Linked DNA regions of Homo sapiens. The protein of the gene in region 3 interacts with the protein of the main gene of each other region in a pairwise test. Each region holds a gene or a part of one and is shown on either strand. Other genes may lie near its edges.

Region 1 (2,229 bases), on a different chromosome or scaffold from region 3:
CTTTGTTGCCCAGGCTAGAGTGAGGTAGCATAATCACAGCTCACTGTAGCTTCTACCTCCCGGGTTCAGATGATGCTTCCACCTCAGCCTCCCAAGTAGATGGGATCACAGGCATGCACCAACACACTCAGTTAATATTTTTAAAACAATTTTTAATATGTGGGGGGTTGGGGGGACGTGGGTGTCTCCTTATTTTGTCCAGGCTGGTGTCAAACTCCTGGGCTCAAGAGATCCTTCCACTTTGGCCTTTCAAAGTGTTAGGATTTACAGGTGCTAGCCACCACACCTGGCTCTGAGGTTTCCTTGGCATTTTTGGGTAAATGCCTTAGAATACTCTAGGGCACAAAATTGTTGCTTTCTCTCTAAAATCCTGGGCCAAACATGTTGTAATAATCCTGTGATATTTTTACCTTTTCTAAGTCTTTCATATATTTGGAGAAAGAAAAAAATTACTCTTTTCTTTGAACAAAGGTTTAATTAGGAAAAAAGAGACAACCATATAGTATCTTTAGTATAGTATATTTATAGGAATGCATAACATGTGAGATGTACATTTTGAAGTTTCATCCATAACTTATAACATTTACTGTAGCAGTAACAAGACAGCAGGTCATCACTTTACAACATTACACATGAGTGATTTTGACTTACAAATAAAATATTTACAACCTACCTTTACAAAACGACATTGTGTGCATACAAAATGAACAACAGCAGAAAAATTTAAAAATAATAAAATAACCAAAAACCCAGAAGATACACTTAAGGCAGACCAGCAAGACACTGAAATAATTAAGGCTGTGGAATTCTTCTGCACCTTGAAAATATAGAGCTATTTATCAATACTGTGGAGTGATTTTAAATCAATTGTTACAAGCCTGATGGAAGTATGTACTTATATGTATATGTGCGATGGTCCCTATGGGGAAACCTGTCCACTTATGAATAAGGCCCTTTGTCTGAATGGCCAGTGAAGCCCACTCCAAATTCTCAAAAGACTTGAGGGGGGCAGGGGTCACTCAAAACCAAGAGATGCCAATACAGTTTGCAAATCAACTATTAATAGTTCAAATGTAAAGATAGTTATAAGTCCAGATAAACAGAATAAACTAAATGATGGCCCCTTTATGTTTCACACTTTGTTAGTTTGGCTTTGTGGATGTCAAAAGACAGCAAATTAATTCCAGAATGAGTAGAATTCGTCTCCACAAATTAGCCCTAATGGTTTTGAATGGCCCTAAATGGTTTTCCATTAGAAACATTGACCCACCTGGGCTGTCTGCAAATGGATAGATTTCTGCATATGAGCAATAACATATACATACATATTATACACTATATACATGTACAGATGTACATATATCCATATTTTCCAACAGTTTGCACTTTGATCACTACTGTTCTCTGAACAGGATCTCATTATGAAGAGTATGTTTAGTTTTTTTCAGTCTTCATATTTGTTCTAACTACTAGTTTTACTCACCTTCCCCATAGAGTAGGCTGAAGTTTGGCAGAAACAGAAGTAAAAGCACCAGGGTCAGAAAAATCAAACATAGAGTTGACAGATATGGCTTAAGTTAGTAAGAGAAGATGTATGTCTTGTTAACTTCAGATTCGTAGCCACAGTCTTTGAGGTCATAGTAACAGTCTCTGTAATACTCCAGAACATGGATTCAGTTGTTGATGGAAGTCAGGTATTGATGGAAACTCATATGATGGCCATCCCTGGGCCAACAAATTAGCTTGGTTAAACTAAGCCTCAGGAGTTGGCATTCCAAGAATTGTTATTTGCATTTCTTCTACCATGCTTCCTTTTCTCAGCTAACCTCACTATCTGAAATAGCAGTTATCTAACTAATGCGTTATCTTGATCATTTGAATAAAAACTAAATCTGAACACATTTTAGAATCTCACAGCAAAGGGGCACATTTCTCACAGAAAAATGCAATAGCCTGTGCGTATTAATTTCAGGCTTATCATAATGTCCCTCAAAGACGAAAAGTTGTCTTAGAGTGATTGCTTTTTCCTCTCCTCTAACTTCTTCATATTTATTGAAGATGAGGAAGAAATGCCTTTCATAGAAAATATGTTTTATGATAATCTGTATTCTACTACTTCTGCTTAAATTTTTTATGTGAGTAAATTTCCTATTAAAAACATTTAGTGCTATAAACAAATTTCAGCCCTTTTTAACCCTTTAGAATTAATGAAACAACTGAGAGCCTTAA
Region 2 (3,500 bases), on a different chromosome or scaffold from region 3:
CAGGAAACTTTTAATATATTCCTTGAATATCAATATTTTCGTAAGTCATCACTAGGGGTTATTGAGAAAATTAGATTTTTGAAATTAGTATGTATTTAAGATAAATAATTCAAGATTGGGGAAACAGAAATAATAGAAAGACATTATCAAGAATCAGCTGAAAATATGTTCAAGGCATCTCAGCCTCCATTTTCCTCTGTAATGGAAAAGATTTCAGGCTGGGTGCGGTAGCTCACACCTGTAATCTCAGTACTTTGGGAAGCCAGTCTGAGCAACATAGCAAGATCCCATCTCTAAAAACAAAAAACAAAAACCAAAAAACTTATTTAAAAATAAGCCAGGTGTGGTGGCATGTGCTTGTAGTCCCATCTGGGAGGCTGAGGTGGAAGGATCACTTGAGCCTGGGAGTTCCAGGCTTCTGTGAGCTACAATCGTGCCACTGCACTCCAGCCTGGGTAATGGAGTGAGACCCTGCCAATCCATCAATCAATCAATCAGAAAAGATTTCAACATGGGACAAGGTGACTCAGGTGTGATCTTCCAGTGAGAGCAGGAATGCCCTGTCCAGACTCTCTGCTCACCATTCCTCAATGTAACTGAGGTAGTAATGATGCTGTCTCTCCGTGCAGCTGCCATAACAGGGCTCCATAAAGTTCACAAATATCTCTGGGTGCTTTTCTTCTTTTTTCTACAATGAACAAAGCAAGAAAAAAAATTCTCATGTGCAATTTTTCTCAGATCCCACAGCAAAAGAATCTCAAATAATAAATCATTTAAAGTTATATGAGAATATTTACTCAAAGTCCAGATATACGGACATGGTATAAAGGCAGCACTTAGTACAAGGAGTACAAACATTGGCCATCAACCGAACTGCATTTAAACTCTGTTCTGCCACTTTCTGCCCACGAGACATGCAGATTTTTCAACCTTCCTGATACTTAGTGTTCTCATGTGTATACTAGACCTACTAAGCCTACTTCAGAGGCTACTGTAAAGTGTAAAATGAAATGATACATACAAAACTTCCAGCCCAGTACATGAAACATAAGTAGCAGTTAATAAATACTAGTGTTAATATTATCCCCTAGAATAGAAAAAACCTCTAATCTTAAAATAAGGCATCTAGATAAACATATTTCAAAAACTCAACCTTATTAGAAATCCAAAAGAGTTAAAAACAAGACATCTTTTTCAAGTATCAAATTGGCCTCCCTTGACACACAATCTCAAACACATACCAGTCATCATCTATCCCTAACACGGCTTTATTTTCTCCATCACTCTTATCAGTCCTTGATCTCACATTTAGTATTGACTATCCCATTAAAATGTAAGACCAGCCAGGTGTGGTGGCTCAAACCTGTAATCCTAGTGCTCTGAGAGATGAGGCGGGAGAACTGCTTAAAGCCAGGAGTCCGAGACCAGCGTGGGCAACAAAGCAAGACCCTACCTCTGCGAAAAATTTAAAAACAGCTGGCTGTGTTGGTGCATGCCTGTGGTCCCAACTACTCGGGAGGCTGAGGCAGGAGGATGGCTTAAGCCCAAGAATTTGAGGCTGTAGTGAGCTGTGATCGCACCACTACATGCCAGCCTGGGCAACAGAGTGAGATTCTGTCTCTAAAAAATAAATAAAAATTAACAACAACAACAAACTTAAAACCATAAAAGCAAGCCCATCACCTTGATCACTGCTATATACTCAGCTTTAAAGCAGTGCCTAGCACACTGTTGGCATTAAATATTCGAGAGCAAATGAAATAATTTTAAAAATCAAGATACTGTCTTGCTTTTCTAAAATTTATCGAGTTAACCAAGACTCATAGTTTATAGCTTAAGCAAAATCATTTTTTTTTTAACCTCATAACAGTAGAACATGCTGTGGACACTCCAATTTTAGACCCCTGGCCCATGGTGCAGCATGGAAACCTTATACCTGAAGTTGCATAATCACTGCCAGTAAGTAAAAGAACCTGAAATCAGGCCAGGTGCGGTGACGCACACCTGTAATCCCAGCACTTTGAGAAGCCTAGGTGGGCAGATCACTTGAGCTCAGGAGTTCAAGACCAGCCTGGGCAACATGGTGAAACTCCATCTCTACCAAAAAAAAAAAATTAGCCAGGCATAGTGGTGTGCACCTGTAGTACCAGCTACTCAGAAGGCTAAGGTGGGAGGATCACTTGAGTCCAGGAGGTCCAGGCTTCAGTGAGGTGAGATCGCATCACTGCACTCTAGCCTGGGCGACAGAGTGAGATCTTGTCTCAAAAAAAAAAAAAAAAAACACAAACACAAAAAAACCCCTTGAAATCAAAGCCTCCAGCTTTATTAGAAGACTTCTCTAATTCTCAAACAATGAAATTTCTTCCACAGGCATACCGGTAGTAGAGCCATCACCACATCTGGAGACGTTTCCAGGGTCCCATCTGCAGCAGCATACACTATGGCGAAGACGTAGGTACCAATCCACAGCACATCCAGAACTGAAAGACACATCTTAATCAGTAGCTCATAAAAATGACAGCAACCAGATACAAGAAAAAGCAGCTTATGTTTGGAATAGCCACTATGGATAAAAAAAAAATCAAAGGCCCTGATTTCATTGACTAAATATAATGCACAGGTACAATGACCCAAGAAGCCCAAACTCATCCCCAAATGGTAATTTTTCTGCTGGATTATAATCAGGGCAAATTATGAAGAATTGTAATAAAAAGTCGGGATCCATTTCATGTCATTTATCGTGAAACACAGATGTCACCCAGAGGGCCATAATTTACACTGACTTAATTAGCTGTTTGAAATAGTGACATTATTCATAAAGCAAACACCAATACCTCACTGAGCAGGTACATTACATGATTTTGAATTTCTGTAATATACATAACATGTCATTAGAGGTCAGCCCAATAAGAAAAGCAGTTGTTACCTCTGACAGGATGATCTGACTCATAAAACGGAGGACAAGGAATGACTTTTTTTTCCTGCAAAGTCTGAAAGAGATTTGGAGGGGAAAATAAAGTATCAAATGAAACAAATCCTAAACCAATCAAACTGTCAAATCTAATCTATTCCTTAGATGCTACCTGTTCCATCTCCTTGGCCGGGAGAGACTGAAGAAACAGAATAGTGCTATCTACTTCCAGGACTTCATCCTACAGAAACCCATGAACGTGGCTGGGTGTGGTGACTCATGCCTGTAATCTCAACACTTTGGGAGGCCGAGGCAGGTGGATCACCTGAGGTCAGGAGTTCGAGACTAGCCTGGCCAACATGGCGAAACCCCGTCTCTACTAAAAATACATAGCTGGGTGTGGTGGCGGGTGCCGTAATCCCAGCTACTCGGGAGGCTGAGGCAGGAGAACTGCTTGAACCCAGGAGGCATAGGTTGCGGTGAGCTGAAATCACGTCATTGCACTCCAGCCTGGGTGACAAAAGCAAAACTTGGTCTCCAAAAAAAAAAAAAAAAGAAAGAAAAGAAAAGAAACGCATGAACGCATGAA
Region 3 (3,500 bases):
AAAAGAGCACAGCAAACAAATTCAGTTACCCATGAACAACGTGGGAAATATGACTTTTTCTTGCCTAATAAAAGAAAGGAGAACATATTAAACAGTAATACGAATACTATTTCCACATCACGCCCTAAAATTAGTCCATGCCCACCTACACACAGCCCAAAAGAACTCAGAGTGGCTTACAAAAATAGAGCACATGTTACCTAAGAAACTACATAAAGTTATGGGAAAAAAAAGAGTGTTTTTGAGAGACTCCAAGCGACCACACTCCACATGAAATGTGTGTCCTTTCAGATGGTGAGACAAAGGGTGACCATGGTTGAAGGAAACAGCTCGGCACCTGGGAAGCAGGCACGGCAGCCCATGTTTCAGGAACTGGCAGAAGTGCTCACAGACTAGACAAAAACCTGATTCCAAGAAGCCCTCAAGTGACCAGAATTTACAAAATACTTTTGAATCCCACAGAGCAATACGCCCAGTTAAGGTATATTGTTTTATGTGAGAAGGCTTCACTGCATCTGAAGTTTCAGCGGGTGGGAAGGTGAACACATGTACACCCGCACACATGCACACACACACAAACCTACTTTGATGATGTCTCTCCCCCAAACAATCCTGCCGCAGGTTTCTGGCAGCACTAGTGAGCCATCACCACGGTGCTACAGACTCCTCAGGAGTGAGAGGGAGGGCAGGCAGGTTCTGCAGTGGAGGGCTTTTTCAAATGGGGCACTTTTCTCATGCTGAAACTACAAGCCATACTTCTCCACTTCTACACAGACAGGCTTTTGTGTTTTTAACCTGCCAGAGTGTATAATGGACCTGGGAAGTGGAATATCCTGCCCTTCCTTTTGCGGCTGCTACACAACATCTTGGTTTTTATCTGGTCAACAGGTTGGCAGAAGAAAAGCCAGAGGTAAAAAGCCAGACAGGCCAAAAGCCGGAATCGAAGCAAAGCGGCAAGAAAGTGAAAACACAGCAAAACCCACAAAAGAGTTATCCTCAGGAATACAGCAACTAGAAAGACAACTCCAGCAACAGTAGGTTAATATTTCAGTGCGCATACACAATCCACTTATCATATAAGCTAAACACTCACACAACAGCCAGCCCACAAAAGCATATTTCTTAATAGAAAAGGCACAATGTAAAATGTCTACCATTTAAAACCAAAACTCAGTATCTGCAACTGTTCCGATTGGGAAGCACAGCACATTTCCGGGTTCAGCTCAGGAAGTAAAGCCTACACTTACATCTCGGATGCTCTCAAGGGGCAGAGGTGCAGTCAGTGTGCCCAAGGCCTGTTCCTGGCTTCAGCTCACCCTAAGGTCCCCACATCTCCCTCAGAACAGGCTCACCTCTTGGCAATCCCTGCCCTGGTGCTCTGTCTTGGGAGGCAAGTGGCGGGCAGGAGTAGCGACCCTGAACAGACAGTGTTATCCTTCCCTCCTCGTGACTGTTCTTCAGGGCTTCCACACGCACAGGCACCTGTCCGACCTATCCATTTATGATTCACACCTGCTCTCATGAAAGGCACCTGCGGCCCATCAAGAAATACGATTCCAAGGAGAAACTAATAACTACTCTAGTAGAGGATCATTATAAGTTGTAGGGAAAAATAATTAGGCACTGCTTCCAACATTTATGAAGACTACCCTAAAAGTTCTCCATATCATTCAGGGGAAATGGCTACGCTCATGTAAAACCATCCAGTCATTCCATTTATCATTCCACTATAAAAACAAGGGCTGCCGCAAGTCTGCCTGAAACTCCTAAGCCTGAGGAAAATCAATTTTATGTTTACTCCACCCGAGGAAACCCAATGGTTAGAATAAAGTTCTGATTTCAGCTGGGCGCGGCGGCAAGCCCAGCACTTTGGGAGGCTGAGGCAGGAGGATCACTTGAGCCCAGGAGTTTGAGATCAGCCTAGGCAACAGAGTGAGACCCCCATCTCTTCAAAAGAAAACAAAAATTATTTAAACAAATTTTTTAAGAAAGAATAAAGTTCTAATTTGTATAGTGATGTTTTAGGATGTGCTTTTAATACAAAATCCTTAATGAAATGTATATTCTCCAGGGTAAAATCAGGGACAGAGATCAACCAAAACACTCCACTGCAAGGATAAGAGCCTATTCAGAGTGCACCGTGTGTCGAATCTGCTCCTTTACACATGTGCCATAATTATTGAGGACGGCAGAAAATCCCAGCTGCTTTCAGAGATTGTGAGCGTTTCTAGAGTTGTACCTGCTCTGCTTTCAGAGAAAAACAAGCAAGAATTACCTCTTTGACTCAAAGCAGAGACAGTAGCCAAGGATCACGGGTGCCTGTTGGCTGTTTCAATAACAACTACCTTAGGCAACACCGTGAGCATCCCAGGCCACGGGTCCTAATAGTGACCTATATTAAGGCATACTCATACAACCACGTATTACCATGTAGTATTTAAAAATAAATAAGTAAATTGAGGTAGAATAATATACATGACATGGAAAGATAATGGCAATAGAAGTCATGATAGGCACACTGCAAAGCAATATTTAAAGTATAATCCCGTAACTGTGTTACAAACAACTTAGAGCAGATGCATAAAAATATGATTTGGCATGCCTTGGAATAACTGTAAGGAATGCAGAAACAGTGTGAAGGCAGGAAACCATGACTTTTTAGTTCATATACTTCCATACTAACTGAAATTTTTTGCATTAAGGATGCTTCAACCTTAAAACAATTTTATTTCAATCTTCAAAAAAGCCTTAACTTTATACAAAAGTTGTATCTCCTAAACTGTATTTGATCCAGTGCCTAAGTACTTCAGGGCTTTATATTTCTCTAAAATTCTCACAGGGGATGTCTGTTGTAGAGTTTGCATATATTTAATTGTGATGCTGTCTTCTACCCCAAAAAAATATTTCCAAGTCTGCCAGCCTGTAAGCACCTGGAGAACAGGGACCTTATCGCAGTCATTTTGACTCACCAGAGCCTCACACTGCTGCCTTTCAAGAGTCTGCTTCCCAGGACAGAAGCCTCAGATTCAGGGTTCCTGGGGCAACAGACTCCATGGGGACTAGAGGACAACAACAGACGTCATGTCACCTAAGATTAGAATGATAACAGGCTTCGGGAAGGTTTGTCAAGCTGAGTTTACCTTTTCAAGGCTTCATTATGCTCACTTACTAACCTGTCACTTTACTACTCAAAAAATTATCACTTAAAACATTCAGGACTTACCCTTTGTCGAAGAAAGATGTATGCCCTGATCGAGAGAACTTTGTGCCATTGCCATTCAGCACCCCACAGTTAACATTCCCTGAAATATAGGATTTTCGTGATGCTTGGTCCTTTGCAAAATTCCTGCAAGCTGCTAATTTGGATTCTAAAGCCTACAAAAAAGAAGGAGGAATGATATGGTTGTCAAAACAGTAGCTGCACATAAAAATTTGCATTTCAAACCATTTCTATTTCAAGCCTCAAAACTTACTCATCTCAGTTGATAATGGTGGTTAGT
Region 4 (3,500 bases), on a different chromosome or scaffold from region 3:
CTCCATTTAATGCCATCACTGAGTGGGTTCCAGATAAAAAGGGGGAGTTTGGCCCAATTTTCTCTTGCTCTCATGCATGCTCTCTTGCCCTTTGCCATGTTATGATGCGGCAAGAAGGCCCTCACCAGATGCCAACACCACTGGGCTTCCCTGCCTACAGAACTGTGAGCCAAATCAATCTCTTTTCCTTATAAATTACCCAGTCTGTGGTATTGTTATGGAGCAGCAAATGGATGAAGACACTCCTCTTCCCCTGACATACACCCACGCTGTCACATTTGTTGTGCATTTCCATTTTATCATTTAAAAATGCATAGGAATGTTTATTTGTGTATAACTTTATATGCATGACACAATGCCACATTCTATATTTCCATGTTCCCCCCAGCACAGCACCATTTTTAGAATTCATCAGGTTGCTAAGGTAACACTTAGTGCTTGCTTGTAAACGCTACGCTCACAGTGTCACACCCTTTCTCCACAGAGAGACACTGAGGTGCCCTCCATCTGCCCACTCCCACAAAACATTGCAGGGCTTTTTTCCTGCCCACCCCCTTATGGCCTGTGAGAATTTCTCTGGCATACATGTATATTCACCAGCAGAATGTGAGGGTCCCCACCATGGGACAGAAGACACCTGACAGGGCTCACTCGGATGGCACAAGCCACCTCCTGGAGTTGGGCAACCCTGCCACACACTGAGGAGACTGCTCTGGCTCAAGGCCATTCAGCAAAGAGCAGAGCTGGGGCAAGAGCATGGTCTGCTAAGCAGTCACTGCCCACATCCACACCTGCCCGCCATCTCCCTTGGCAGGAGAGGGCAAGAGCTGACAGAGTGCCGTTGCTGGAAGACACCACACAGCCAGCCAGTGACTGCTGGACCCTGGTGTTCACCTGTTGAGCTGTCTTGGTCTTGTGCTTCTCCTTCTTCTCTTTGCCCTCCTTCGAGGGTGCCCCTGTCTCCTTATGTCCGTCGGCCGACTGCTCCAGGGCGGGAACATAGGTCCGCCTCTCCCCATCCCAGTACAGGTACTGCTGGCTCTGAGCATTGTAGTAATACTGAGGGAGGAGGAGGGAAGAGGGGATGTGAGGGAAGACCTTGTGAAGGGAACCTGCAGGGCTAGCTGTTCCTGACGCGACCTGACCCGATCCCATCCCTCCCTGGGCTGCCCTATTACCTGGGAGTTGGGGTCATAGTAGAGGCCGGTCTGGGGGTCATAGTAGTAGCCGGAGGTCTCATCGTACTGGTAGGTAGAGACGTCGGGAACAGCTAGGGGGTGAGGGGAACGGGGTCACACTATTCCCTGCTTTATTAAGAACTCCCCACCCCTACCCACAGGCTGTGGCTACTCACGGTACTGGCTGTAGGATTCCTGGGCAGTGGGGCTGGTAGCCGGTGGGAGAGCAGAACTAGGATGGGTAGGGCTCTGGAGCTCAGATTTGAGCACAGCGGGTGACATGATGGTATACGACTGGTCATGGGGCCAGACAGGAGAACAGGGCTCAGTGTCTGCCCATGCCACCCCTGCCGCCTGCCTGCCTCCCCGGGATACATACCCACAGGGCTCACTCACCTGGCTGTTGGCAGCAGTGCCCTGGCTACTGCTCGCCTCGGCTGATTGTTGGTAGATGCCAGGAGCAGCACCAGGCTGGGCGCGAGAGAAAGCCTGCATCGACACAGAGTCGGCCCCAGGCTCTAGGGAGGCCTCGGGACCTGTAAGGAGGGACAGGGCAGGGACAATGCCTGTGAATAATGGGGCCGGGGACTTTATGCCTGCTGGCCCCCACCACAGCTGCAGAGAGAGATGCTGGGGCTCACCTGCTCCAGTGGGATCCCCTTTGGTTCCAGTGATGCCAGGGCCCTTGGTGCCCTTGAGGTAGCCATGGGCATAGAGGGAAGACTCTGTGCCCTGGCTGTTGCCATAGCCCTCATCCTGTTGGTAGTAGCTGTAGTCGACCGGCGGCTCCTCGGAGGTGGCCCAGGTACCCTCCCCACCTTGGGAGGCCTGAAGGGCAGGTGGGAGGGGTTCATTAGAACAGGAAGGTGTGGGGGTGGGGGGTGGGGAACCTGCTAGAAGCATCTGTCCCACACGTGGGGCTAGTATTTCTACCTGACAGACAAAGCATGCAGCCTTAAGACAAGTGGAAAGCGAGGGTTGCCTGGCCACAAGAGAACAAATAGGCCAGTGGCAAACACAAGACAGAAAAACAGATGAACGCCAAAATGTTCCAGGGCTGATTCTGCTGATTCTGCTGTGTGTGGCGTGTGTGTTGGGTGTCAGGCCAAGGAAGACACCATCTTCTTACTTCTTTATTCTCTTCTCCCAATTTTCTCTCAACCACTTATACGTTATTTTTATTCAGGAACATATGATACGTGTATATCATATATGTATATATTACATATAAGGATATGTGTATATCATACCTATTCAGGACAATAAAAACCCCACCAAACAGCACAGAATGCCAGGCACAATGGCGTCGTACATGAGCGCATGGGAGGCAATTGGGAAGAAAGCTGCGGTGATGATGAAGGGGAATGTCCCAGGGGGTCTAGAGAGCCAGGAGCAAGGTAGAATAGCCATGCCAGCTACTGGGAGAGGGTTTTGCATCCATGGATAGCAAGCCAGCCTTCCTGCTTCAGAGAGGGTGCAGGAGGGTTGAGAAAGCCCAGGTCTCAGGACGCTGGGAGGCACAAGGGGTCTGAGTACCTGTGAGATGGCCCACTGGGCCGCAGCAATGGCAGTGCTGGCCACAGAGGCAGCACTGATGCGACTGCCTTCATTGGAGGCCATGTCCCTGAGGAGGATGTTAGAGACTGGGAGTGAGATAGGAGGCCCCAAGCGGTAGGGGGGAGTGGGAGGGTGGGGAGGGGAAGGGTGGGAAGGCACACAGGTGGGGCCCTGACCTCTTAGAACCCTTGGCAAACTCAACATTGATGGTCTTGCCGTCGATAGTGAGTGGTGGGTGCAGGGCCTGCAGGATCTGCAGCAGCTGGGCTGCCTCCTGTGGGAGGAGGGGAGGCAGGGACAGAAGGGTCAGGCCCGGGGAGGCCCCCGGCTCCATTGCCCGATTTCCAGGCTGGCAGCCGCGGTGGGAGGCTGGGGAAAAGGACCCTCGTCTCCACCCCGGGGGCCGGGACCCTGGCTGCCCGGCCCCCAACTGTGCCGCCCTCACCACGATGGTGGAGAGCTGGATGAAGGCAAAGCCGCGGTTCAGTTGGGTCTGCTTGTCCTTTATGACGCGCACGTTGGAGGAGGACAGCACCGCGTAGGGTGCCAGGGCCCCCAGGATGGAATCCATGGTGCTGTGTGGGTTCAGGTTGCGCAAAATGATGGCTGTGGGAAGGGGCCCAATGTTAGAGGACACCCCTGGCACTCTTGCCAGCCCTGCCCTTCAATGCCCCCACTGCTCCCTTTCCTCTGCCCCCACTCACTCCGTGCCTTTGCAACTGCCGCTTCCCTCACTGCTTCCTCCAGGATCAACTCTGCTTGGCG
Region 5 (3,500 bases), on a different chromosome or scaffold from region 3:
CGCGGTGGCTCACGCCTGTAACCCCAGCACTTTGGGAGGCTAAGGTGGGTGGATCACGAGGTCAGGAGATCAAGACCATCCTGGCTAACACGGTGAAACCCCGTCTCTACTAAAAATAAAAAAAATTAGCCGGGTGTGGTGGTGGGCGCCTGTAGTTCCAGCTACTCGGGAGGCTGAGGCAGGAGAATCGCGTGAACCCAGGAGGCGGAGCTTGCAGTGAGCCGAGATCGCGCCACTGCACTCCAGCCTGAGTGACAAAGCGAGACTCTGTCTCCAAAAAAAAAAAAAAAAAATAGTAGTAATAATAATAGTCAATATAGAAAATAGTTATAATGACTAAGTTATAAATGGGTTTAATAAAGGTATTTTTAAAATGATTACCTTTTAAAAGGATATTTTACCTCAGTTTTTGTTTATTAAGAGTGGTTTTAAAAAGTCTAAGTTATTTCTAAATTCTCAAGGTTCAGCTACCTCTTATACTGTACTAGGAGATCAATATTATTTATCCAATTCATATAAACAGCCTATGTGTTTGTGAGTGTTAACCTACAGAAACAAAATGTCTCAATTACGTATTGTCTAGAAGTAAAATGTCACAATCATGTCTCAAAAATACATATGCCAGGTAACTGCTGATAACTATAATTAAATATTGTGATAGGCTCCAACAAATAATTAGGTAATCACATCATCTCACTGTCCGGAAATGTCTTAGAAGCAAATCAGAAATAAGTATACAAATACTATTTCTTCATTACTTGATCAGAATGCCAGGACATAAGGTACAGATTAAATCAGGGACAGTCTTGTCATTGACAGAGAAATCGCCCATTGTTTTCAAATTAGTACCTATCACATGCTCAAGTACTAGATGAAGTGTTAGGAGTACAAAAACTCCTAATATAGTAACAGAATGGTCAGCTAAACGTGTAATCACAATTTGTTCAAAATCGTTTTCCTTATAGATAGCTTATTAAATAAAAGATAGGGTAACATAAATCTATACTCAATTCTAAAATAAATTTAATTGGCAAAACCAATGAGAAAAAACTGATCAGCTGATACATCAGTGTACAAACATACAAATTGTACTAATTTTGGCTAAGTTCTACACAAATAAAGTATATATAACTATTTCAAAAATGAACATTCAACTCTAATTTTCATGAAGTCCTAATATTAAAAAAAATTTTAAAACTGGATTAATAGATCCTACCAAATATTTCTAAACCAAAAATCTTTGTTTTATGAGTAACCACTGAGAATACTTTGAAGCGCTCCATCAATGATGTGACTGCATTACCAAAGTAGAACTTTTGGCTCAGACCAAATGACTTAAAATTTCTTTCAGAATCTAGATATTGATCTCAATAGAGAACAGAATTGAATATATCTTTTCCTTAAATCAAGAAAATGATGGAACTCATCTTCTAGGGAACTCTACTGGTAAACTTAATAAATCTTATATTTCTAGAAGAAAAAGAAACATGTTTTATAGCATAAATATAAGCTCATAAAACCAATCTGGTTTTGTCAAGAAAATGAAGGAAGACTATTTTGAATGAGGAAATTGGACATGGGCAGTGTAGCTTCCTGTTTAGTTTTAAGACTAAATATAACCTTTGAAAAAAGCAGAATGTTTTCTACCATGTAAGTATCTACTAGTAGTCTAGTAAATGAAGACCAGATTTTCTTTATCGTAAAGTAGGAAGTTCTGAATGATCAAATCACTTTACCTTTCAACCTTTTCAAGTACACTGGAACATCACTTTTAATGCTTTTAGAATCCTCTTCTGTTCTTTCCCATAGCATTTGAGGAGGGTTGTTTTGTGCTAGCCAGTCAGCAACTTTGTTTTCGGGTGCCATCATTCCTGTTTGAATCCCCAGCAAGTCTTGAGTTCCAGGAGAAGACTTCTTGGACTTGTGGCGCTGATCAGAAGTAAACTTTGTCACATGGTCTCTAATAGTTACCTTCCCTGGGGTACTGTCATCAAATTCAATGGTAAATGAAGCATGCCCTGCACCTGTTATATGGGAACTTGGCGTGTCTTTTGTTGGGATTTCATGAATAGTGCTTTCTGTTATTTGTGATGGTTGCTGGAATTCTTTTGTAGGGATTTCAAAATAACTTGGTTCCCTACAGAAAGGAAAAAGTACTTCTTCATTTGCAGCTGCAGATTGTTCCTCAACTTGCTTGGCATCTATGCCGCACCCTAATGAGAAAAATAAGAGAAAATTCAAAATATTTGATTGCTTCTGGCACTTGAGGGAGTCTGGTAATGGCCATGTGTACTACTCCGTGAGAACCAGAAGGCAGATCACAGTCTGGATGAAAACCAATGGCATTTATATCACAGAACAAATGTCACAGAGAAGAAAGAATCTTGATTATAAACATGCGATTTGATTACCAATAGGGGATGGAAGATAAGCAGCAGCAATGGCAAATGAGAGCAAAGCAGTTAAGAAATGGATCTTGCATGGCTAGGTCCATATTTTTTCCAACCTGGATCTAGAATTCATCAAGGTCCAAAAGAATTAAAATAAAATGTAGATGGAGATGCATGTTCAATGTATATATAAAAAGTGACAGAAAAACCATGAACTCCCTTCTCAAGTCGCCAAGATGAGATATCTGAAATATATATGAACACATGTAGTGCTCCAAAGGAGAATAGGTGCTCAAATGAGAATACAAACATGAAGTAAATATGTAAGTGATCTTCTGGAAGTAATGATTCCACTTACCATTCTTCACCATTACATTCGGAAACATTACTTTCAGAATGACAAAGATATTGCTGAAGTGCGATCCTTGCAAGAAGATACAAACATTTTATAAAGACTAAAACATGTGGTTTGCAATCCAAGCAGCAGTGTGAACGAAATAAGGTTAAAATAGGAAATTCAGTTTCCAGACAATAACTCTGGAAGTTTACATTTCCATACAGCAGAATATGCAAAAGTGTCAAAATTCCTTGGAGGAAAGCTGAATTGTAAACCTCAGATTAACATGAGTTGGCAGAAGGAGCAAGCAACTCTGGAACACTATCACTATTCTTCTGTTGCCTCAGAATCTAATACAAAAGTATAGAAACAGATGCATTTATGAATAAAATACATAAATAAAAATGACAACTAAAACGTTTTCGGTACGCAAATGCAAAATAAAAAAATTAAAGATGCTATTGTCCTGTTGTTGAAGAAGCAAAGCATGTCCATTATCAAAATGAAGAGCAAGTTGAAATGAGACATATTTCCCTAAAGCTCAAAAATAAATTCTGCTTTTAAACAGATTAATAGAAAAATCACTTACAGACAATTTATTAGGAAAACAAGGCAATACAGGGAGACTAGGTTGTTTCCAAACATTTTCTAATTAAGTGAAGCGTTTGGTCTTTTGAAACATCTTTTCAAAAATTAAATTTTAGTGGGATCTGTCAGGTACTATAATTGGTTTCTTGACAGCAGTCTGAATATGAAATAATATAAAACCTGAC
Region 6 (3,500 bases), on a different chromosome or scaffold from region 3:
CAGAAAAGCTATCCTTCTTAATCTTCTGGTTCATATGGTCCCATAAGTTTATAATCAGAAATAGGTACCAGTATCACCCCCCACCATAATCCCCATGACAAGCCAAACATTTTTAAAATGTGATGCCCACTGTAGAAGAAATCTCCAGAACAAGTTCATTCTTGCTGGATATGATCAAAGATTAATGTTTTTAAAATGTTAAAAATCTGGCCCACTTGTCTGTGAAAATCCATATCACAAGATTATAAGAATGAAACTGGGGAACAGCCTTGTTAGTAGAAGAAAAACCTTGTAGGATCTTTTGAAGCTAACCAGAATGGTGATGATGAAAATGTGAGAACAGGAATACTAAAGAATCTCCATTCCAAGGCTCTATTCCATGCCCTGCACCTATCTTCTCTCATTATATTAATACAAGCAAAGGGTCTTGGTAGCTGGCAGGGACCAATGCTATCATGTTTTGGGGGGTATGTGCTTTAGGAAATCTATCAGCCTATTCCTCTTCTTAAATTTACAAGAGACATCAGAAAAGCCTGAATAGTTACTTTAACATTAAGTCCTAAAATAGGTTATATAGAATTTATTTTAAGATATATGGCATAAAAAGTTACAGCCTGCTAAATTTTATATTTTGATACTTACTTGCAGAGCTGTAATTCTGACATAGTAACAATTGCACTCTGGATAGCCGGTGCCTTCTATCATCCAGAACTTTCTATATACAAAATTAGAAGTAACGAAAGCTATCTTTGGCTATCAAGCAATAGCTGAAAATAATCAAAGAAAAAGTAACTGGCTGATTTATCTATTAAAAAAGACAAGTTCTCATCAGCTGGTGATAGCTACAGAAGCCAACTAGAGCCTCCCCAAATCCAAAGGAAAAGAAATAAAAAAGAAAAAAAAAGATGAAAATATCAAGGGACAGAGGTGATAGACAACCCAATGATAAAGGAAGAAGTTAAAATGAAAAACAGATCACCATGAAGGAGACGTGAGCCTTAAAACTAAACAACACAGCAGAAATACTGCCTCACAGTGAATATGCAACAAATTTACAAAAAGGGTTGCCTCTGGGGAAAGGACTGAGACGGTGAAGGGGACCACAAAAGACTTTATTTGTAATGCTTTATGCACTTTTTACTTTTTTTTTTTTTTTGAGACGGTGTCTCACTCTGTCGCCCAGGCTGGAGTGCATTGGCACCATGTGGGCTCACAGCAACCTCCGTCTCCTGGGTTCAAACAATTCTCCAACCTCAGCCTCCCGGGTGGCTGGGATTACAGGCACCCACCACCACATCTGGCTAATTTTTATATTTTTAGTAGAGACAGGTTTCACCATGTTGGCCAGGCTGGTCTTGAACTCCTGACCTCAGGTGATCCACCCACCTTGGCCTCCCAAAGTGCTGGGATTACAGGCGTGAGCCACAGTGCCCGGCCTCTTTATCCATTTTTTAAAATTTGACAGAAATATACGAAATAACATTTGTTCAATCATACAGATGCTTGTTTGACCTCTGTACTTTTTAAAACATTTTTTTAAATGCAGACACCTATAATCACTATCACAGAACTTATTACTTAAAAATAAACATTCAAGTGTAATTCTTCATTCCCATTAGATTTTTGGTCAAAAGATGACAGAAGCAAATTATGTCTATAATCTCTAAGAAAAGGAAATAAAGATATAACTAAAGCAACTCTGCAACCTGGGTATCAATCTATTGCTATAAATAATTACTATACCCTAAAGCACATCAACCAATAAATATACAGAACACCATGTGCAGGGAAGCACTCCCTCTAACACAATGGAGTAAATTAAATTGTAACAGGAAGTTTTCAAAATATTTATACATGGTGTCCAGACTCACGTGAATCGACTGCTTAGTCCTAGCAACATGCCCTGCCGCTCTGCTCCCGTCCATAATGCAGGCTCACAGCCACTTTCCCTAGCATTTCTATCAGGCCTCTCTTTGATAAGCAGCTTTTCCCACAGCCAGGTACCTCTTCACATTCCCACTGTGGAACCAGTTGGTGAAATCCTGCAGAAACACTGACCCCCGTGGACCAAAGCACTAACGGAGAGGTGAGAAATTGAGCTAAATGAGGTAATTTCATCCTGGAGGTCTTGATGGACCTCTCTAGGGATCTCCTAGATCTCTCTGTCTCACAGGCTTGTATTTCTGTCCAGTCATTTCTGCTTACAGGCTTAGGTATATATATAGTTCAAACAGCTTTCCTTTCACATGAATACTCCCTGGAACAGTAATTTCCAAAGTATGAGATTTGCACAAAAGATGACTTTAGGTGTTACATGATTTTGCCAACAAGACATTTTAAATACCACTCAGTAAGGAAATTATTAATCACAATTAAGTCAAGAAAAAAAGTTCCCATTTTGCAACAGTACTTGTTTAATAAATTTAACAACTTCTAATTTTTAGCACAGGAACCCTAAGTGACAAGAGTCTAGTTACATAATACACCATTTTGTTTTCATTGTATTTATTTTTATGGTGGTATAAACTTTCATTTTAAAATTAACTTAAAATTTTTAGAAAGTGAGTTGACATAAAGGAAAATATTAAATAAACAGAAAACAGTAAATAATAATAAAGGCAAGGCCAGGCATGGTGGTTCACGCCTGTAATACCAGCACTTTGGGAGGCCAAGGCAGGTAGATCACTTGAGGTCAGGAGTTTGAGACCAGCCTGGCCAACATGGCAAAACCTCATCTCTACTAAAAATACAAAAATTAGCAGGGCATGACAGTGCATGCCTGTCATCTCAGCCACTCGGGAAGCTAGGGTAATCGCCTGAACTCGAGAGGCGGAGGTTGCAGTGAGCCAAGATCAGGCCACTGCATTTCACGCCTGGGAGACAGAGACTCTGTCTCCAAAAAATAAAAAATAAAAATAAATAATAATAAAGGCAATAAGTGTGACAAACATTTGGGAAACACTGATCTAGAAGAGGGTTTCTCAAACTTTTAATGTGTATCAGAATCACCTGGAAGGTTTCTAAAAACATGGATTGCTGGGGCCCATATCCAGAATTTCTGACTCAGTAGGTGGGTCCAAGAATTTATATTTCTAACAATACGACGTGATGCTGAGGTGATGCTGAATTGCTGCTCCAAGGACCACACTTGGTTTAGAATAACTAAACCAGAATGGTGATCAACAAGCTTTTGTTAGAGTCAAATGGTAAATGTTTTCGGTTTGCGGGCCATATGACTCTGTTGCAACCATTCAGCTCTGCTGTCGTAAGCCAAAGCAGCCATAGACATCATGTATATGAATCGGCATGGATGTGTTCCAATAAAACTTTATTTACCAAAAGCAGGAGGCCATAGTGCCAGTCCCTGATCTAAAACATACCTTCAAGTAACTTTAACTATTAAACTATTAAAGTTACTTTAAGAGAAAAGTCTACCATTTAAACTAATACTAGAGCACAGTACAGAACAGAACAGCCAGGTATATTATAGATACTATCCA
Region 7 (3,500 bases), on a different chromosome or scaffold from region 3:
TCTAGGATTCAATCAAGAAGCACACATATTACATTCGGTTGTTAGGTCTCTAGTTATTATGTCTCCTCTCTAATCTAGAAAAAAATATATATATTTTTTACTTTAATGGGAATGACTTCTTGGAAGAGACCAGTCCTTATAGAATGCGCCAGAGTCTGAATTTGCCTGATTCATTCCCGCGGTGAGATTCAGGCTGAGCGTTTTGACAAGAGCACCTTGCAGGAGATGCTGTATGTCTCCTCCCCAGCCCTGCATCTGGCGGCTGGCAGGGTCAGGCTGCCCCACTGTTGGGGAGGCTGTTTGATCACATGGTCCAGGTGGCAGCTGCCAGATCTCTCCTCTGTAAAGACGCAGTTTCCCTTCCTGATTCACAGGTAATTTGGGGTAATATTTGGAGACTTTGTGAATATTCTGTCCCCAACGACCTTACATCTAATGGTTTTGGCATCCAGTGATGATTTTTGCCTGAATTAATTACTGCATTGGTGGCTGCAAAATGTCTCCACCAACATGTTAGAATTCTAGCAGGGACAAAGAGGTGACAGGCCCGGCAAGTAGCATGGCTGCCCACGCCCCCAACTGTGGCCTCCTGGGCAAGCCACACCACCCGCTTCCATAACTCTGTGCCCACCCTTTCTGCCTGGGGGCAGGAGAGACAGAAACATGGGAGGGCTTCATCTCAAAGGCCTTTGAGCAGTTAGTCGGGGGAGGGGTGTCTGGGCGTCCATGAGAGACATGTATACCGGTAGGGGTGCCGGTGACAGGGAAGGGGGTCAGTTAGCTGCACATGGCAGGGAAGAACAAGTTATGTCCTGTAAAGCCCTCACGTAGGCAACGACTCCTGGATGTTCTGATTTACCCTCTATGTGTGTTTTTTTACCCTCTATTTGTAAACAATTTTTACCCTCTATTTGTAAAAAAAAAAAACAAAACAAACAAACAAAAAAAACAACACCTCACTTCACCACCCATGTTAATGTGGTTTGGGGCTACCATAGATCTACTCCCGGTCCCTACCCAAGGCCCTGGCTACTCACAGCCAGTGGGATCCACATCACCTGGGAGCTTGTGAGAAGTGCAGAATCCCAGGCCCCATGCTAGTGGCTCAGTCAGAAAGTGCACCTTAACAAGGACTTCGGGTGGAGGGTGGCGCTGTACTGACTCAGAGCGCGCCCTGGAGGAACCAGGGCAGACCTCAACGAAGGCCTTCTGCATGAGGGCATCTTTCTTTCCCCTCACTTCTCCTTCCCTCCCCGAAGCCCAGGGTCTGCTGAAGTCTCATCAATCCACCTGGCCCCCACCTTTCCGGGAGAGCGGCGGCCTCTCAGACACCTCCATAGTCCTGGCTCAGAAGCAGAAAGGAGGCCGGGCGCGGTGGCTCACGCCTGTAATCCCAGCATTTTGGGAGGCCGAGGCAGGCGGATCACTAGAGGTCAGGAGTTTGAGACCAGACTGGCCAACATGATGAAACCCTGTCTTTACTAAAAATACAAAAATTAGCCAGGCGTGGTGGCAGGTGCCTGTAATCCCAGCTACTCGGGAGGCTGAGGCAGAATTGCTTGAACCCAGGAGGCGGAGGCTGCAATGAGCCGAGATCACAACACTGCACTCTAGCCTGGGTGACAGAGCAAGACTCTGTCTCAAAAAAAAAAAAAAAAAAAACACACAGGAAAAGAGGGGTGTCCCACACCTTGCACAGGAAAAGCCAACCACTTCCTGAAGCCATTCTCAAGATCAACCTTCGGGTACATATTCACAGCTTTCCAGGCACGTGGCCCAGCAACTAAACCCATCCTCCCACCCACCTCAGGCTAACCTGACTGGCTAAGGGCACAGTTCACATCTAGCAACAATCAAAGCAATATTCCCTCTGCAGCGTTTTACAATCAAAGCAATATTCCCTCTGCAGCGTTTTTCATTCTCAATGCTCCAAGCAGCCATGAGGACAGGCAGAATGCACTGAAAGGGAGGACATCTTGTCCAGCCCCAGGCTGCTCAGCCTCGCCTCCTCCGGCCCAACTCCTGTGCAAAATGACCACATATGCCTCCGCTTTGTTCCCTGTCCATCTGTTTTTTCTTTCTCTCTCTCTCTCTCTCTCCCTCCCTCCCTCTCTCTCTCTCTCTTTCTCTCTGTCTTTCTTTCTTTTTTTTCCAGACACAGTCTGGCTCCATTGCCCAGGCTAGAGTGCAGTGGTACAATCACGGCTCACAGAAGCCTCCAACTCCTGGGTTCAAGCAATCCTCCCACTCAGCCTCCCCAGAAGCTGGGACTAGAGGCGCATGCCACTACGCCTGAGCAATTTTTTATTTTTGTAGAGACAAGGTCTCAATATGTTGCCCAGGCTGTCCTAACTAATATTGTACTACATCACACTTCTTCAAAACTTGGAGGTCCCTTTCCTGAGAGAAATTCTCAGAATAATATTGGACATTCTTCTGTCACTGGGCATTAACTGTGACATACCCAGATGTAAGGCCTTCTCCATATAATTTCCTTTTTCATTATTTTTTATTTAATTAATTTATTTATTTGAGACAGGGTCTCGTTCTGTCACCTAGGCTGGAGTGCAGTGGCTTGATCTTGGCTCATGCAACCTCCACCTGCTGAGTTCAAGCAGTTCTCCTGCCTCAGCCTCCCGAGTAGCTGGGACTACAGGTGCATGATGCCCAGCTAATATATATATATATATTTTTTTTTGAGATGGAGTTTCGAGCCCAAGCTGGAGTGCAATGGCGTGATCTCAGCTCACCACAACCTCCACCTCCCGGGTTCAAGCAATTCTCCTGCCTCAGCCTCCCGCGTACCTGGGATTACAGGCATGTGTCACCATGCCCGGCTAATTTTGTATTTTTAGTAGAGATGGGGTTTCTCTATGTTGGTCAGGCTGGTCTCGAACTCCTGACCTGAGGTGATCCGCCCACCTCAGCCTCCCAAAGTGCTGGGATTACAGGCGTGAGCCACCACGCCTGGTCAATTTTTTGTATTTTTAGTATAGATGGGGTTTCACCATGCTGGCCAGGCTGGTCTCGAACTCCTGACCTCATGATCCACCCGCCTCGGCCTCCCAAAGTGCTGGGATTACAGGCGTGAGCCACCGCACCCAGCCAATTTCCACTTCTTAATGACCAACTGAATGGCCCGAGGGCAGCAACTCCCTCCTCCACCCAGTGAGATCCCGGGGGACACACCATCTGTTTTCCTTGTCACAATGGCCCTCGGACGCAAGCACTCTTCACTGCCATTTCACAGTTGAGGAAACTGAGTCACTGAGCCAGTGGGCCATGCAGCGACTTGCCCCTGGCCACACAGCTGTCAGTTGGTGGCTGCCTCCATTCCTATCTCCACACTGCACTGCCTTCTCTGGCAGGGCCCCTGAAGTAGAAGGAAGGAAAGGACACCTTTCTCCCCAGGATGCGTGCATGTGGCCATGGAGTTCCTGTTCTAAAGCTTTGGTGAGGTCTGTTGCTGGGTGGTAACCTGCACATCTTCAGTGTGCAAA

What was found.
Region 1: the proteins of NDEL1 (region 3) and KALRN interact in a two-hybrid assay, tested with the Homo sapiens proteins (2 studies listed by BioGRID and IntAct).
Region 2: the proteins of NDEL1 (region 3) and NUP214 interact in a two-hybrid assay, tested with the Homo sapiens proteins (one large-scale study listed by IntAct).
Region 4: the proteins of NDEL1 (region 3) and RBM10 interact in a two-hybrid assay, tested with the Homo sapiens proteins (one large-scale study listed by BioGRID).
Region 5: the proteins of NDEL1 (region 3) and CEP170 interact in a two-hybrid assay, tested with the Homo sapiens proteins (2 studies listed by BioGRID and IntAct).
Region 6: the proteins of NDEL1 (region 3) and LUC7L2 interact in a two-hybrid assay, tested with the Homo sapiens proteins (2 studies listed by BioGRID and IntAct).
Region 7: the proteins of NDEL1 (region 3) and PDZD4 interact in a two-hybrid assay, tested with the Homo sapiens proteins (one large-scale study listed by IntAct).

The regions. Positions count from the first base shown.
Region 1 is NC_000003.12:124,724,597-124,726,825, reverse strand, and holds the end of KALRN (kalirin), read right to left. Parts: 3' UTR 501-2,229; downstream 1-500. UniProt on the Homo sapiens protein: Promotes the exchange of GDP by GTP. Activates specific Rho GTPase family members, thereby inducing various signaling mechanisms that regulate neuronal shape, growth, and plasticity, through their effects on the actin cytoskeleton.
Region 2 is NC_000009.12:131,132,086-131,135,585, reverse strand, and holds part of NUP214 (nuclear pore complex protein Nup214), read right to left. Parts: intron 2,991-3,500; coding exon 2,927-2,990; intron 2,481-2,926; coding exon 2,377-2,480; intron 689-2,376; coding exon 582-688; intron 1-581. UniProt on the Homo sapiens protein: Part of the nuclear pore complex. Has a critical role in nucleocytoplasmic transport.
Region 3 is NC_000017.11:8,459,884-8,463,383, reverse strand, and holds part of NDEL1 (nuclear distribution protein nudE-like 1), read right to left. Parts: intron 3,376-3,500; coding exon 3,224-3,375; intron 65-3,223; coding exon of another isoform or gene 30-64; intron 1-29. UniProt on the Homo sapiens protein: Required for organization of the cellular microtubule array and microtubule anchoring at the centrosome. May regulate microtubule organization at least in part by targeting the microtubule severing protein KATNA1 to the centrosome.
Region 4 is NC_000023.11:47,179,721-47,183,220, reverse strand, and holds part of RBM10 (RNA-binding protein 10), read right to left. Parts: exon of another isoform or gene 3,440-3,500; intron 3,342-3,439; coding exon 3,181-3,341; intron 3,010-3,180; coding exon 2,912-3,009; intron 2,803-2,911; coding exon 2,715-2,802; intron 2,007-2,714; coding exon 1,820-2,006; intron 1,715-1,819; coding exon 1,575-1,714; intron 1,473-1,574; coding exon 1,355-1,472; intron 1,271-1,354; coding exon 1,179-1,270; intron 1,060-1,178; coding exon 895-1,059; intron 1-894. UniProt on the Homo sapiens protein: Binds to ssRNA containing the consensus sequence 5'-AGGUAA-3'. May be involved in post-transcriptional processing, most probably in mRNA splicing. Binds to RNA homopolymers, with a preference for poly(G) and poly(U) and little for poly(A).
Region 5 is NC_000001.11:243,189,282-243,192,781, forward strand, and holds part of CEP170 (centrosomal protein of 170 kDa), read right to left. Parts: intron 2,214-3,500; coding exon 1,737-2,213; intron 1-1,736.
Region 6 is NC_000007.14:139,366,394-139,369,893, reverse strand, and holds part of LUC7L2 (putative RNA-binding protein Luc7-like 2), read right to left. Parts: intron 1-3,500. UniProt on the Homo sapiens protein: May bind to RNA via its Arg/Ser-rich domain.
Region 7 is NC_000023.11:153,820,545-153,824,044, forward strand, and holds part of PDZD4 (PDZ domain-containing protein 4), read right to left. Parts: intron 1-3,500.